2 separate regions of the Homo sapiens genome follow, and region 2 is linked to region 1. The links come from fine-mapping of genetic effects on gene expression. A gene starts in region 1. The other region holds a variant in brackets. All regions are shown on one strand. Distances are between the middles of the regions. Region 1 holds the start of UAP1L1 (UDP-N-acetylglucosamine pyrophosphorylase 1 like 1). Region 2 overlaps GRIN1 (glutamate ionotropic receptor NMDA type subunit 1).

What was found.
Region 2: its variant is fine-mapped to the expression of UAP1L1 in subcutaneous fat (FUSION, PIP 0.95).

The regions. Positions count from the first base shown.
Region 1 is chr9:137,074,693-137,080,180 of GRCh38, reverse strand. UAP1L1 (UDP-N-acetylglucosamine pyrophosphorylase 1 like 1) reads right to left here and starts at 2,664. Exons shown (of 9, transcript NM_207309.3): 1 at 2,360-2,664; 2 at 1,927-2,131; 3 at 1,504-1,679; 4 at 1,033-1,205; 5 at 732-925; 6 at 39-179. The coding sequence starts at 2,648. RefSeq lists enhancers at 1,062-1,940, 5,286-5,488 and silencers at 2,302-2,401, 2,412-2,471, 2,482-2,731, 2,742-2,831.
Region 2 is chr9:137,143,536-137,148,535 of GRCh38, reverse strand. It overlaps GRIN1 (glutamate ionotropic receptor NMDA type subunit 1), which reads right to left. Exons shown (of 20, transcript NM_007327.4): 3 at 2,634-2,810. Among named protein-coding and RNA genes, the nearest start is that of GRIN1, 6.9 kb to the right of the region's middle. The variant C/T (reference allele first, on the strand shown) is at 3,117.

The DNA.
Region 1 (5,488 bases):
AAGGAAGAAGGGGAAAATAAATGAGTTCTACTACTAACTTAGCAAACCGGAACACATCAAACACAAACTTCTCCATCTTTATCCCGTTCGGTTTTAGCGGCTTTACCAGATTCCCCTCCTCATCCACATACGGGACCTTCTTCACAGCCACGTGTGGCTTCAGCAAAGGCTCAAACTCCCTGGGGCACGGGAGAGCAGAGGGGAGGAAAGAAACAGATCAGATATGGCACCGCTGGGGGCTCTGTCCCCACTTCTGAGCACACCCAGCTGGGTGGGACAGGATGGCAGAAGGACACTACAGGGCACAGAAGCGGCAGAGTAGGGCCAGATCTCCAGGGAGAAGCAGGCACAGGCCTCCTCCCTGCATCCCTGTGCCAAGTGCCAGGCACCATCAGCCACATCCCTGCCCAGGCAAACAAACTGGCAAGCCCCAGAGCAGAGGTAGCACCCTGGGCACCAGGGCAGGTCCCCAGAAGGAGGAGATGGCAGACTTGATCACAGAGCCTTACAGCAGCTGCCTGCTGAGCACGGCTTGTGCCTGATCTCCAGCACCTCTGCCTTTGCAAGCTCAGGATCCATTCTCCACCCCGACCCATCAGCCGTGCCTGACCACAGCCACTCCTGACCACAGCCGCTGTGGCCCAGGGCACTCAGCTCACTGGGACCCCGCGGGTCCCTGGTCAACGCAGGCGGCTCTGGCCGGCAATCCGCAGCCACCTGCTGCCGCACACCTGGTGACCGCCTTAAGGAAGCCTCGGGTGAAGAAGTGGTTGCAGATGTTGCCTGCATTGTACAGCAGGCTCCCGTCGGAGGCACGTAGCTGTGCGGTCTCAGGACTGATCTCGCTGTACTCCACCACCTGGGGGACACCGTCCACCTGGCACACCACGCCCACGGGCTCCTCGGGGTATGCCTTTTCCACCACCTGCAGCCAAGACCAGGGATGGGTTCCGAGGGCTGGGCGGAGGGGCGGGGCTCCGTGAGGGGCGGGGCCAGCCTCGGGTGCGGGGCGCCGCGCAGTCGGGCGCTAACCTTGGCGCCACAGTCTGCGCCCTGCAACACACAGAAGCCGATGAAGACAGGGTCCGCCAGCCGCACCAGGATGTTGTCCACACAGTACACGTGCACAAACTCCACTCCCCGGCGCTCCATGTCCTCCAGGATCTTGTGGTCCTCCAGCGCGCAGTAGAGGCCCCCGTTGCCGTCTGCAGACGGAGAAGGGAATGGGCATCGCGAGGGCTCCCGCCAGGGATCGCTCTGGGAGTCTAGGACGTGCTGGAGGCGGGGGAAGCCCCGGCCTTGTGCCTAAGGCAGCCCTGGTCACTAACCAGACAGCCCAGTTGGTGTACCATGTGACAAATGACGATCAAGGCCCAGAAAAAGAGGCGCCTAACCCAGGACCACACAGCCTCGGGGCAGCCGCGAACCCGGGCGCGTGGACCCCCAACTACGCTCCCAGTTCTAGTCTGGGCGGTCCCTCCCCGTCTCAGGAACGGGCCACACCTGGGGCCATGGCAACTTTGTCTTTCCGCTCCAGGATAACCTTGCCATCAAAGGTCACAGCAGGCAGCAGGCGCTGCTCAAACATGACCACGTTGGCGGGGTCCAGGTGGAAGAAGTTGTGCTCCCTGAAGAACTCGGCCGTGGGCCCCAGAGTGAACTCGCTGGTCATGACGTACCTGCAAGGGAGGCGCGGTGAGCCGGCCGCGAGTACGCCTGGCCCTGCAGGCAGACGGGGCTCGGACCAGAGCCGGCATCGGGGTTCGGGGTCCAGTGTCCAGTTGGGGCTGGGGCCAGGCCCCATTTTGGGCCGGTTCTGGGCAATGTCCCGGTCTGTGCCGGGGTTGGGGCTCGCGTCTGGAGCGGGGATGTGGGGGGGCGTGGGGAAGGGTACCTCCGGGCCGAGGTAGGGCAGGCAGGACACACCAGGGGACGGTGCAGCGGGTCCCGTGGCGCTCACCGGCCAGCTGCTCCACCCGCCGAATCCGCTCCGCCTGCAGCTGGTACAGGGTCTTCCGGCTGGGCAGCCCCACACGGTACATACCCTTGGGGTAGGTCACGCCCAGGCGAGTGCCCTGCCCCCCAGCCAGCAGCAGGACGGCCACCTTGTTCAGAGAAATCTGACGGAAACCTGGGGGTACGGGCGCCGTGAAGGGACGCCCGGGACCCGCCCACCCTTCCGCTTTAGGGGAAACCAACTCTGGGGCTGGGGCGCCAGGACTCGGGGGCCGGAACGCGTGAGGCGAGACACGTCTCAAAGTAGCGAGGAGAACTACAGTTCCCCGAGCGCGGCCTCGGTTCCCACCCGCTCCGTGGGCACGACCCCCTGCCGGCCCCCAGGGCCTCCCACCCCGCTTACCTTCCTCCTCCCAGCGCCGCCGTGTCTCGGGGTCGCTGCGGCTGGCCCTGCCCACGCGCTCTGGGGGCAGGGGCCGCAGGCGCGCGGCCAAGTCGGGCGGCGGGCCGTGGGGGCGCGCGCAGGCCTCCGCCGCCCGCCGGCAGTGCTCGCGCAGCGCCTCGGGCTCCAGCAGCGCCAGCTCCGCCAGCAGCGCGGCTCGTGGCTCCGGCGCCAGCTCGGCCCAGAAGCGCAGGAGGTGCTCCTGGCCAGCGCGCTGCAGCCGGGCGCGCACGTCCTGCTCCGAAGCCATGTCGCCGCTGCCGTCTGTCAAGTCGGCACTCGTGACCCGCGCCACTGACCAGCGTCACGAGACCGGGCGGGCGGTGTAGACCCCCCAGTGGGGCGGGCCCCGGGCGCCCCGCCCCGCCCCGCCCCGCCCCGCCCCATCCCGCCCGGTCCCGCGCCCTGCCCTGGAGCCCGCCCACCCCCGCTGCGCACCCCAGACTCTGTCCGGGTTCTCTCTGACCCCGCCCTGTCTACATCCCCCCAGCCCCCCCGCGTCCGGTCCGAGACTCGAGACAGGGCCCAGCCCCATCTCTCCAGCCTGTCCCCCGTCCCTCTCCGTCCCCTGGACCCGCTCCGGTGTCTGGCCCTGGCCTGCTCCCTCGAGCTCCCGTCCCCGTTCCTGCTCTTCTCCAGGCCCCGGGCCCATGCCCGCCCTGTCCACTCCGCGCCCCGCCCCGAGAGATCCCAGGACCCTCTGGGTCGCGCCAGCTGGCGTGGGCAGAGGAATCGACCATTGAGCTAAGGGAGGAAGAGGCCCCAGGGACGCCCCGCAGGGGAAAGCTAGGTTCTGTCCCAGCACGGGCTTTGAACCTGAGAGTGGCATGGCCACCTTTGCGCTAACCAAGACTTGGACGGAGACCTCCTGGTGCAGAGACAACCGGCCAGAGTGCATTGAAGAGGCCTGGGCTACGGCTGAGCTGTTGGGAGGCTGGAACCAGACCAGGTTCCGGGATGCCATCCCGCGGCTTGGGGCTCCCTCCCGCACACCCTTCCTGCTTCCCATTGCCTGGTGACCAGAGCGCTCTGCAGCCCCTCGCCCACATTGTTATTTTACTATCAGGTTTTAAAATATCTTGCTTGTGGTCGGCGCGGTGGCTCAAGCCTGTAATCCCAGCACTTTGGGAGTCCTAAGTGGGGTCAGGAATTCGAGACCAGCCTGGCCAACATGGTGAAACCCCGTCTCTAATAAAAATAGAAAAATTAGCCGGGTGTGGTGGCAGGCGCCTGTAGTCCCAGCTACTCGGGAGGCTGAGGCAGGAGGCCTTGAACTCAGGAGGCGGAGGTTTCAGTGAGCCGAGATCCTGCTGCTGCACTCCAGCCTGGGAGACAGAGTGAGACTTCTCAATAAAAATAAAAATAAAATAGTTTGCTTGTGAAAAATATGAAAGGGTAGCTTCTGCCAGTTGGGCACAAAACTTTCTCCTAGAAACTATATAGTAAGTCTAAAAGTAATATATGTGACTGCATAAAAGAATTCAAATGGTGGCCAGGTGCAGTGGCTCATGCCTGTAATCCTAACACCTTGGGATACCGAGACAGGATGATCGCTTGAGCCCAGGAGTTCAAGACCAGCTTGGGCAACATGGTGAAACCCCGTCTCCACTAAAAATACAAAAATCAGCCAGGTGTGGTGGCGTGTACCTGTAGTCCCAGCTACTTGGGAGGATGAGGCACGAGAATCACTTGAACCCGGGAGGCGGAGGTTACAGTGAGCCAAGATCGCACCACTGCACTCCAGCCTGGGTGACAGAGCGAAACTCTGTCTCAAAAAAAAAAAAAAAAAAAAAACCGGGCGCAGTGGCTCACTTCTGTAATCCCAGCACTTTGGGAGGCCAAGGCGGGCGGATCACCTGAGGTCTGGGGTTTGAGACCAGCCTGACTAACATGGAGAAACCCTGTCTCTACTAAAAATAGATACAAATATTAAATATAAATATAAATATATAAGCATGGTGTTGCATGCTTATAATCCCAGCTACTCCAGAGGCTGAGGCAGGAGAATCGCTTGAACCTGGGAGGCGGAGGTTGCCATGAGCCAAGATCGCGCCATTGCACTCCAGCCTGGGCAACAAGGGCGAAGCTCTGTCTCAAAAAACAAACAAACAAACCGAAAAAGAAAAACAAATCATGCTGTTACAGGAAAGAGGTTCCAGACCTCAAGAGAGGGTTCTTGGATCTTGCGCAAGAAAGAATTCAGGGCAAGCCCATACAGTAAAGCAAAAGCAAGTTATCAGGAAAGTAAAGGAATAAAGAATGGTTTCTCTACAGACAGAGCAGCCCTGAGGGCTGCTGGTTGCCCATTGTTATGTTTTTTTGGATGACATGCTAAACAAGGAGTGGATAATTCATCCCTCCCCTTTGTAGACCATATAGGGGAACTTCCTGACGTTGCAGTGGCATCTGTAAACCGTCATGGTGCTGGTGGGAGTGTAGCGGCAAGGACAACCAGAGGTCACTGTCGTTGCCATCTTGGTTTTGGTGGGTTTTGGCCGGCTTCTTTATCGGAACCTCTTTTATCAGCAAGGTCTTTGTGACCTGTATCTTGTGCCGACCTCCTGTGTCATCCTGACTTGGAATCCTTTAACCATCCAGAAATGCAGCTCAGTAGGCCCCAGCCTTATTTTACCCAGCTCCCATTCAAGATGGAGTTGCTCTGGTTCACACACCTCTGACAGTGATCTAGGACCCAAAATGAAAACTAACATCTCCCTCATGCTGCCCCGTGGACCCCTCAGGCAGTTGTGTTTCCTTGCAGTTGGGTTCTGCCCCCACCTCCACACACATGCCCTCACTGAGTTTGGGAGGGGGCTTCACCCCTGGGGCAAGGCCCACATGCACTCTTCTGGACCTGCATGGAGTTGCTTTTCGGGCCTGCCTCAGGGTCTCTGCACTTCCTGTTCCTCCCTCCTGGACCGCTTGTCCCCAGAGAAACGTGTGGCTGGGGACGCATTTGGTCAGGCCTCAGCTCCCCAGGCCACGCCCACTCGGTGAGCACCTTCCCATCCTCCGTGCCAGGCTGCCTTTCTGCATTCTTGGCTACCTGACTCCCCTGTGAGAAGCGAACCCCACAAAGGCGGGGAGTTG
Region 2 (5,000 bases), 69 kb before region 1:
CAGGCGGGCGGGCTCCCTCCCGGGTTCCACGAGGAAACCCTTGGGGTCTCGGAGATTCGCATGCACTTCCCGGAGAGCAGCTCCTCCTGCAGCCGCGCCTGCCTCGAGGGTGCAGGCTAGGGTCACGGCGGGTGGGCCTCAGGCACCCACGCCGCCACGCCTGCCCTCTCCTGCCTGCCCTCTCCTGCCTGCTGCCGGCTGCCTCTCCTCATTGCTTGGGCCTGCGGCTCGGCGGCTGGGCCAGACAGTGGCCCTAGTGGCCGAGGCGCCGAGGCCAGGGCTCCCTAGCCGTGGGTGGCGTGCACGTCCATGCATATATACCTTGGGTCCGCGCTTGTTGTCATAGGACAGTTGGTCGAGGTTTTCATAGTTCCTTTTTTTACTCTGATGAATAATGTGCACAGAGAAAATATGCAGACACAGAAGAAGATTATAAACGGTTGAAAATGACGGCGCTAAAGCAATCACACCACCTCCTCGGCACGTCTGCAGACGGGCTCCTACCTGGAGCTCGCAAACACCGAGGCCCGGGGCGGGGCTGGGGGCCGGGGTGGAGCTGGGGGTGAGGGTCGTAGGGGCGGGGCCGTGGAGGCTCCCTGCCACGAAGCTGTGCTCTTGGAAACGGTCGCTCTCGGGAGAAAAGGAGGCCCTGTCCGCGTCCACCGTTCGGAGGGAGCCCCACCTGCCGCCCCCACCCTGCCGTGCACCTGCTGTGTGGCCCCAGCAGTGCCCACTCCAACCTGTGTCAGTCCTGAGTGGGAGGTGAGCAGCCCCCCCGGGGCCTGTCCCCATGTCCCTCCCCCTCCCTCTCCTTGGTCTCCCTCTGCCTCTCAAGAGACCGAGGTATCCTCACTAACTGGGGTGCCCACGCCCTTCGGCTCGCATATGCGCCCAAGAGGGTGTGTGTGCGTTATGTGCGCCTGCAGGGGTGGCATGCGCCTGTGGGTGTCAGCATGGGAGGGTTAGTCCACAAAGGCCTGTGAAGGTTGGGGAAGGGCCAGATGGTCTGAGCATGCTTGTGTGTGTGCATGTGTGCATGTGCGTGTGTGCGTGCTTGTGTGTGCGTGTGTGCATGTGTGTGCGTGTGCATGTGTGCATGTGTGTGCCTGTGCACGTGTGTGCGTGTGTGCATGTGTGTCTGTGCTGGCTGGCGCAAGTAAGGGTGAGCATGCACATGAGGAGCGCACCTGAGCGTGTGTCCAGGTGTGTGTGTGAGGAGCGCACCTGTGCGTGTCCAGGTGTGTGTGTGAGGAGCGCACCTGAGTACGTGTCCAGGTGTGTGTGTGGCGCTGGAGCTGCATGGAGGCAAGCCTGAGCCTGTGGCCAGAGGTGTGGAGTGTGATGGGAATGTGTGCATGCACCTGTGAGTGAAAGCAGGCAGTTGGGTGCGCAGGGGTGAGTGTGTGATGGGAGTCCGTGGCCGTGGGTGGACATGCCAGAAGGTGAGGGGCCTGTCGAGCGCTGGGGTGAGGGGCCTGTCGGGTGCTGGGGGGGAGGGGCCTGTCGGGCGCTGGGGGGAGGGGCCTGTCGGGCACTGGGGTGAGGGGCACTGTCTTGGGTGGGGCCCTTGGTGCCCATGCCCCTCCCCCCCAAGACTCAGCAGACCCCCCACGACAGTACTCCCAGGACCCTCTGGTCTGCCCCTGGCTTTACCCCCGACCCATGCCCTCTGGTCCCTCCCGGGGCCTGGGGTGCCTTGGGGGGTGCTAGGTTGGCCCTAAGTCCGATGAAGCCAGCTCTGACACGAAACATGCTCCCAGCCACCCATAGGTCTGGCCCTCCTCAGCCTGGGCCTCCTCCCACTGCTTGATCAGGAGCTGGCCCAGGTGCTGAGCACCCAGGGCTCCGGGGGTCTGTAGCCGAGAACCAGCTCTGCCCCAGACTGCAAATGGGAGTGGTAAGGAAGGGGAAAGGGGTCGCTCGGACCCCCCCAAATCCCAGCTCTGATCTCTCTGCAGCCCCACAGAGTGGACGCCTGGCTGTGTTGGGGGTCAGTGTGTCCTAGAACCAGGTGGCTAATGGGTCTTGGTGAGGAGTGCAGAGGGAGCCCTGTGGTGGGGGCAAGGAGGGGAGTGGAGCCCACAGGGGCGGTCCAGGCTGGGGGGCAGGTGTCTGTGGACAGGGCTTTGCTGAGCCATGAGGTGCAGAGCTTCAGGGGAGGCCACGCGGGGGAGGACAGGGAATGGGCCCAGCCAGGAGGGGACAGGCCTGCAGGGGCGGTATGTGGGGGTCGTGTACAGGGGAGACCTTGCCCAGAGGGAGGCTGCTGGGGACTCAGGACAGGGTGGGCGGGAAGGGTGACGAGTCCCAAGCCCGGCTGGGGCCTCCAGGGAGCGAGGGGCATGGGCAGGAGGAGGGGACGAGGGCGCTCGGCAGCGCGGGGCAGGGGTGTTTGCGGAGCTCCAGGTGGTCTGGCCCTCGCCCCGCAGGGACTGACACGAAGGAGATTTCGACTAATGGCAAAAGCGAGTGAAATGAGCCGAGGACAGGCTGGGGCGGGCGCTCGCCAGACGTGGTGGTGCTGACCATGCACGATGGAAAGAAGAGGGTGTCACACACGGAGCCACAGACACAAGGCGGCCCGTCCTGCACCTCGGCTCCGCCAGGCGCCCACCCGCGGCGCCGACCCTCACCTTGGACTCACGCTCCTCCAGCAGCGTCTCCAGGCGTTTCTGAGCCGCCCGGCCCTCGTGGTCGTCGCTGACCAGCAGGATGATGTGGTTCCAGCTGTAGACACGCATCATCTCAAACCACACGCTGGACTGGTGGGAGTAGGGCGGCACGGTGCGCAGGAAGCTCAGGTGGATGCTCTGCGGGAGGCGGGGGCACGGCGGGCTGAGGTGGACCCGCGGGGACCCGCCCTCCCACCCGCCTCCCACTGCCGGAACACCCGCCGGAGGCTGGGAACCCCCCTCCTCCCACCCCTGTCCCCACCCCCATGGGGACACGTTCTAGACCCTGGGACCCCCTCGTGTCTCCCACCCCGTCCCTACCACCCTGGGGACACTTTCTAGACCCTGGGACCCCCTCGTGTCTCCCACCCCTGTCCCCACCCCGCTGGGGACACTTTCTAGACTCTGGGACCCCCTCGTGTCTCCCATCCCATCCCTGCCACC[C/T]TGGGGACACTTTCTAGACCCTGGGACCCCCTCGTGTCTCCCACCCCTGTCCCTACCACCCTGGGGACACTTTCTGGACCCTGGGACCCCCTTCCTCTCACTCCTGTCCCCACCCCTCTGGGGACACTTTCTGGACCCTGGGACCCCCTTCCTCTCACTCCTGTCCCCACCCCTCTGGGGACACTTTCTGGACCCTGGGACCCCCTTCCTCTCACCCCGGTCCCCACACCCCTGGGGACACTTTCTAGACCCTGGGACCCCCTTCCTCTCACCCCGGTCCCCACCCCTCTGGGGACACTTTCTAGACCCTGGGACCCCCTTCCTCTCACCCCGGTCCCCACCCCTCTGGGGACACTTTCTGGACCCTGGGACCCCCTTCCTCTCACTCCTGTCCCCACCCCTCTGGGGACACTTTCTGGACCCTGGGACCCCCTTCCTCTCACTCCTGTCCCCACCCCTCTGGGGACACTTTCTGGACCCTGGGACCCCCTTCCTCTCACCCCGGTCCCCACACCCCTGGGGACACTTTCTAGACTCTGGGACCCCCTCGTGTCTCCCATCCCATCCCTGCCACCCTGGGGACACTTTCTAGACCCTGGGACCCCCTCGTGTCTCCCACCCCTGTCCCTACCACCCTGGGGACACTTTCTGGACCCTGGGACCCCCTTCCTCTCACTCCTGTCCCCACACCCCTGGGGACACTTTCTAGACCCTGGGACCCCCTCCTGTCTCCCACCCCTGTCCCCACCACCCTGGGGACACTTTTTTTTTTTTTTAAACAGTCTCGCACTGTTACCCAGGCTGGAGTGCAATCTCGGCTCACTGCAGGCTCCGCCTCCTGGGTTCACACCATTCTCCTGCCTCAGCCTCCCAAGTAGCTGAGACTACAGGCGCCCGCCACCACGCCCGGCTAATTTTTTTGTATTTTTAGTGGAGATGGGGTTTCACCGTATTAGCCAGGATGGTCTCGATCTCCTGACCTCGTGATCCGCCCGCCTCGGCCTCCCAAAGTGCTGGGATTACAGGCGTGAGCCACCGCGCCCGGCCAACCTGGGGACACTTTCTAGACACTGGGACCCCTCCTTTTTCCCACCCCTGTCCCCACCATCCTGGGGACACTTTTTAGACCCTGGGAACCTCTCTCCCACCCCGGCCTCTCCTCCCACATATAATCTCGGAAATGGAGGAGGTTTAGTGTTGGCCCCATAGCACCCTAAGGGACGTGGGTTTCTGTGGAATTGTGCCTGGGGTGAGCTCACCTCTTCCCCTGCAGCCCACCACCTTTGGACAAGCTGAGCTCAGGAAATTCTTGATGACACATAGCGCCTCGAAGATCCCCCTGGGGCTGCCCATAGAGTCCTCCCAAATTTAAACAACTCTATGTATGAAGAAGAATTCACTCTTGGGGCTAAAGGCCTCATCTCCCCAGGCGAGAGCGTGGTGCTTGCTTGCCCTGGCTTGCTTTTCCTGGCTTCAAGCTGCCACGGAGTGCCGTGGCATGGCCGGGAGTGGAGCAGGCTCTGCCCCCCTCTGCCTCAGTTCTCTGTGTCTGTCCAGGTAAGCCCTGGTTCCTTCAGTGTCCCTGTGGACTCTTGCTGATCTTGTGGTCCTCTGAGGCTTCCAGGTTATTTTTCACCTGCTCCCTCTTTGTGGCCTGGGGCAGTGCCTTGGGGTGCAAAAATGTCCCCTGCTTCTGTCTATCCACCTGGTGACGTGGTGGCAAGGCAGGCTGTGCTTGAGGTCTTGGACTAGCTCTGACCTGGCCTTGCCGGTTCATGTTTTGGGCACAGGTTGGTTGTAGTGTAGAGACTGTGGTAAGGCCAGGGTGCAGCTGTGAGCTGTGCCCCCTCCCTTTGGCCTGCTCTGGGCCAGGGGCATCCGTTT